Linked DNA regions of Homo sapiens: region 1 is linked to region 2. The links come from fine-mapping of genetic effects on gene expression. A gene starts in region 2. The other region holds a variant in brackets. All regions are shown on one strand. Distances are from middle to middle. Region 1 overlaps GIN1 (gypsy retrotransposon integrase 1). Region 2 holds the start of PPIP5K2 (diphosphoinositol pentakisphosphate kinase 2).

What was found. PIP is the estimated chance that this variant, and not a neighbour inherited with it, causes the effect.
Region 1: its variant is fine-mapped to the expression of PPIP5K2 in whole blood (INTERVAL, PIP above 0.99).

Annotation. Positions count from the first base shown.
Region 1 is chr5:103,085,600-103,088,519 of GRCh38, forward strand. It overlaps GIN1 (gypsy retrotransposon integrase 1), which reads right to left. Exons shown (of 8, transcript NM_017676.2): 8 at 401-2,573. The coding sequence ends at 2,299. Among named protein-coding and RNA genes, the nearest start is that of GIN1, 33 kb to the right of the region's middle. The variant T/C (reference allele first, on the strand shown) is at 1,282.
Region 2 is chr5:103,119,019-103,121,938 of GRCh38, forward strand. It overlaps PPIP5K2 (diphosphoinositol pentakisphosphate kinase 2), which reads left to right and starts at 1,283. Exons shown (of 31, transcript NM_001276277.3): 1 at 1,283-1,470. GIN1 (gypsy retrotransposon integrase 1) reads right to left here and starts at 1,120. Exons shown (of 8, transcript NM_017676.2): 1 at 1,046-1,120. RefSeq lists enhancers at 256-757, 758-1,258, 1,094-1,353, 1,384-1,573, 1,624-1,683.

The sequences.
Region 1 (2,920 bases), 33 kb before region 2:
CTTTAGCCTATATTAAACATAATCTTTCTTCTTAAATGAGTAATCAGAATACTCCAGGTCTCCATCTTTGATATCACATCACTGTTCAGTATGGTTGTGAAATATAATATGTGCGATATTCTGTACTGATCTTAAGACAGACTCCATTCATTACCAATGCTACAGGCCCAGTTTAGGTTTTTAGTATTCGTCATCACTGCGAAGTCCTCTCAACTAATCTCCATGCCTTGTTTTCTCCTCTTCTAATCTGTTCTTTACTAGTTGCCAGATTAAACTTCCAAAAACACAGTTCTGATTATGACAGTTTCCTATACAAAGTTTTTGCTCTCAGAAAAGAAATAATTTAGCCAGGCATTTGTATTATTGCTAGAGCTACTGTAACAAAGTCCCACAAACTGGATGGCTGAAACAATAGAATTTTATTGTCTCACAGTTCTGGAGGCAAAAGTCTGAGATAAGGTATTGACAGGGTTGGTCTTCTGAGGAATGAGGAAAAATGTATTCAATGCCTCTCCCCTAACTTCTGGTAGTTTTCTGGCAATCTCTGTCATTTCTTGGCATATAGAAACATAATCTTAAACTCTGCCTTTATCTTCACATGGCATTCTCCTTGAGTCTGTGTTCAAATTTTCCCCTTTTATCAGAACACCAGTAATACTGTATTAGAGCCCACCCTATTGAAATATGATCTCAACTAATTACACTTGCAACAACCTCATTTCCAAATAAGGTCACATTTTGAGGTGGTGGGGGTTAAGACTTCAACACAAATTTTGGGAGGGGCACATATCAATCCTTAATAGTATTCAAAGCTCTCCATAAGGTTTCCTACTTACCTTTTCAGCTTTATCCCTCATTATCTTGCTTCTTCACTTTATACCCGAGGCAGTGTAGACAACAAGAAGCCCTGCCTTTTTATGAATCATTACAATACTTTTCCATTTCTGTGTATTACTTCTCCCCTAATTCTTTTGTATCCATTTACCAAATCCTATACATTCTTCAAGGTCAAGCTTAAATGATCCTTCTTCCATAAGGATAAACACAAATTTCCTATGTAAAAACAACTTCTCTCTTTTTGCCTCCCTAAGTACATTATCTACACCTGTCTTCTGCAATTTAGCATGCCTTAACTTGTGCTGTACATGGCTTACATAGTTTATTACCTACCAGACAGTAAGTCCTTTATAAGAATGAGGTACACGTTTGACTCATCTTTTACTTTTCCCACAGTTCTTTTCATAGTGCTTTAGAATAAATATTTATTGAACAATATTTATT[T/C]TATATTTATGAATATCATAGAAATTACAGTTTAAAATCTTTGATACTGGTTATTTTATGATTTTATGATTGCAGAAAAAATTCTTAACGGATACTTTTGTTGTTGTTGTTGAGACAGGTCTTGCCCTGTCGCCCAGGCTGGAGAGCTGTGGCATGAGCGCGGCTCACTGCAGCCTCGACCTCCTGGGGTCAAGCAATGCTCCTACTTCAGCCTCCTGAGTAGCTGGGACCGCAGGCATGTGCCACCACACCTGGCTAATTTTTAAACATTTTTCTGTAGAGATAGGGTCTCCCTGTGTTGCCCAGGCTGGTCTCGAACTCCTGGGGTCAAGTGATCATCCTGCCTTGGCTTCCCAAAGCGCTGGGATTACAGGTGTGGGCCACCATGCCTGGTCGATGGTTTTATCTTTAATATATAGTATGAAAATAAACAAATTGTTTCCCAACCAATACATAGTTTCAGACCCTAATCCTGACCCTATCTAACCAATTAGATAATTTGAAATTACCAATATTCTGTGAAAGCCTATTAAATAACCCTATATTTTTTCATACAATCTTGTTTTTAGAAGTTCTAATGAAACAGAAAGAAGCTTCATTTCATTCATTGTTACAGTTGATTCAGTATTTATCAATTCCATTCAAGGTAGTTCAAACTTACTGTTTAAATGGTAGAGAATTTCAGAAAATTTAAAACTTAGAAACGGTGCCAAAACCATACAAAGGTTTGAGAGATTTGGGCTGGAATTTATTTCCCAAGAAGTAGGGGTGCTTTGCCTGTTCTCTTTTTAGAAGAAAAAGTGAATTCTATATATTACATGCTTCCTTTGCCTTCATATGTACGTATACTGATATTCAAATGTGGCATAATTTTAGATAAGAACTATAAAATAAACCTTCAGAATATAGTCATTAAGAATGTGTCAAGATACTTCTTCTATACAACGTTTTTAATGAATAAGATATCATTAAGAATTTATATTCTAAACAAACAATTTAAATAAATTTTGGTATTTACTAACTTAAGTATTCAAGAACCTGGTTTGAAGAGTCCAACAGACTGAAAGTCTGCTTTTCAAGAGAACTATGATCGTCTATCAATGGAGAGATTTTCGTATTTCTATATTCTAATAGTTCACGATCCTTGCTTGATGTCAGTAATTCATTATCGACTATACCAATAGTTGCATCTTCCACCAGAATATTTGCTTGATATGCTCCAATCGGAATTTCAGGCAATCCAATGTAGTCATGATCTGCCACTACTGAACCTTGCAAGAGATAAAGACTTTCTGAAAAAAGAAAAATCATACATTTGACTTTTAGAATTATAATTAAACATATTTTTTAATTAAACAATTTTAAGTGAGGAACAAAATCCCAAGTAATAAAAATTAACTATCAAGATTAACTTCTAGGGAGTTATACTGTCTACTAAATATGAATGTCAAAGAATAAAAAAATGACATATAAATTTGACAGTTCATACATAAACAATGCAGGAAAGGTCAAGGATTTTAAAACAGCCATTTTCCTGTTCCCTCAACCTGTCTTTGGTAGATATGTATATATGCGGACAACGGGATAGAAGGAGTGAGAATTATGGTATAGATTAAAAATAAAATAATAAGGCTGTGCA
Region 2 (2,920 bases):
TTTTGCAAGAGGAATGTCAGGGTCACATTTGGTTAAGCTTTATACACTTTGTCCCCTCCATAAAAGCAAATAAAATCAACTCATTGCTTAATTCCTTTAATAATTTTGTGTTCAATAAAGTAAGGCAGTTAGGTATTATGTCAAGATTAGGACTTAACTGTTTCACCAAGGGTTAAAAACAAAGCCACCAATTTAAGCCCCTAAAAGGTTATAATACCCGCTGGTTCCATCTTAAAATCTGCAATTTTCAATCAACATGTTAACTTGGATCGGAATTCTGACATTTGAATTATTCTATTTTAAGCTCCAAAAAATGGACACGCACAATTTTATGCAACGTCAAGGACCTGTAAATTTAAATACACTTCTCTGTAATCTGGTTCACTTCAGAGTACAAATTCATTGAACAAAAAAATGCCTTCATCGCCATATGCATTCACATGAAGCCACATGGGATAAATGCATTTCCACTTTAAAAAGTATCTACTTTGGTTCAGAAATGCCCATTTAAGAAAAACCTACACTGAGATAAAGTGGACATTTTTCTTTTAAAACTACGTGACAGGATTCCCTCTTGACCTCACGTTTCTCCCCGCCACGTATTTAAATTTGGGGCAAAATTTCTGATTAAATGACTGATCAAAGTAATGGGGAGAATTCTTCAACGCCGGCCAAAAGTGCTTAGTCTCAAACGCTGTGAGGGAGCATTTCCTAAGCTTTGGGCGACTCGTTAACGGAATCTTAAGGGCAAGGTCCAACCACACTCAGAATCAGCAGGAAAATGACCGTTTGGTAAAACTCAATTACACCCAGTAGGCACCTCCCCAGGCCCGAAACAGCACTCGCCCTTTCTGCTCAGCTAGCGCGGGACATCGCAACGCCCAAGGCCCTCCTATCTCAAAGGCGCTTGCGCAAAATCTCCCCACAGACTCAATTAAACCCTTCCTTAGGCCGGTCGAGGCGAATGGTTTTGAAATTACTGTCGGGTTACGCCTCACTTTAAAAAACAGTAGGTATGACACAGCACACCAGAACGACCACTCACCGAGGTGGTCCTAAATTCAAACGACAGATTTAAGCTTCCTCTCGTGATTTATCTCGCGCTGCCGGAAGCGGAACTACCCGGGTCCTTTAGAGGGCAGTCCTTTGGGGAACCTTGGAACCACGGTCAGAAAGGTTAGGACTGATCATTTGGCTCTTGCCGGAAATCGTTCCGCCCGGTGAGGTTTCGGCGTGAGACCCGAGGAGGGCGGGGAAGAGGCGTGACGGAGATTCCTGAGGTGTAGTAGCCTGAGGTTCCCTTATGTGGCCCTATAGCTGTTACTGAAGGAAGTAGCCTACGTCCACGCCTACAACTGAAGTCTCTTGACAAACACCTCACCCCTGCCTCCGGGATGAAAGGGGGTAACCTAGACCTGAATGGGCTTGACCATCTCACAACTGCTCGCGTGACGACCGCATTCGTGGCAGGTGAGGGCCCAAAACCGGAGGAGAACCGGAGATGCGGAACCTGATCATGCCAGGGTTGAGGCGGCTGCTGGGCTTCTGCTTTGTCTCCTGTGCTCTGCAGACCCTAAACACATGCTCCACCGAGGGGCTTGTGCTGGAGAGAATGACAGCCTGGGCGTGGAGTGACAGTACAGCTTTGAGGGTCCTTTCGCGCCTTGATTTCTCCTCCTGCTCCCCCATGGCTTCCCTTTTTCATTTCTTGGGTTCGAGACGCCAGAAATTGAAGATCAGCTAAAAGGGAACCGCTGAGCTTCTACCCCACGCTGTGCCTGGCTCCACTGAAGTGATTAGCCTCGAGTTATGGGACTGCTGTGGGTAGAGGTGGCTTTTTAAAAAATTTTCTGCCTTAGTCTTTATCCCTCTCTCTGTCAACCCCACACCCACTTTAAAATAACAAAAGCCTCATGTGTTGCAGCTTTTCATAGTAGGGACCGAGGCTGCAGGGCACTGCCGCACCTAGTCATTTGGAGGTCGTTGCAGCCTTCTGCGCCTTGAAGAAGAAGGGGCCAGGGTGATGATCCCTGGATCTCATTCACGAGGTTCTTGACCACTTCCTGGGAGATTGCGACTCTTGGTGTCCTTTGGCTAGTAGTTGTCTTGCTGGAAGGCTTAACTGTGGAAGTGGGAAGCATAGCTGACCTTAGCACGTAAAATCCTCGCTCTACACTGGGACAGGATTTTGTTTTGCTATTGAGAATTCTTAAATGAAATAGATAATTTTTTTGTCTCAGATAGATAAAATAATAACGATAGTTGCCATTAACTGAGTCTTATGTGTGCCGAGTGCTTTACATAGTTTGTCATTTATTCCTCTCAACAATTCCAGGAGGTATGTTAGATTATTATCACCATTTTACAGAGTTAGAAATGGAGGCTTTGAACAGTCAAGCAACTTGCTCTATTAAACATTTGTTATAAGTAAACGTTTGAATCTGTGTTAAAAACCAGATCTGTCTGCCTTCAAAATCTGTATTCTATTGTCCTGTCCTGTTCTTCCTCGATTTCAATTTCTTCACTAACATTTTCAGTGTCTGAAAGTATCCATTCATTTAAAAAATTTTGGTGTACCTACTTATATGTCTGACAAAAGTTAGACATGATCTCTGTCTTTATGGAGCATTGTGATGCAGAATTAAGTAGTGCAGAACCCAGAATACTGTACTTACTGCAGCACAGGTTTATTTAAAGCAAATGACTAAACTGATTTGCAGAAAATTTTAAAATCAAAGGTTGCTGTTTTAAATGTTAAATTCATATGACTTTCAGAGTAGTTGTTGTGAGGGTATTAAACTGAACAATTGGTAGAACATCTGTTGATTACCCAAATAAGTGCTATGAACCAAGTTAAGTAGTGGGAATATATAGATTAGGTCCTCATTCTTTAAAAGCTCCCATGCAACCACAATATAGA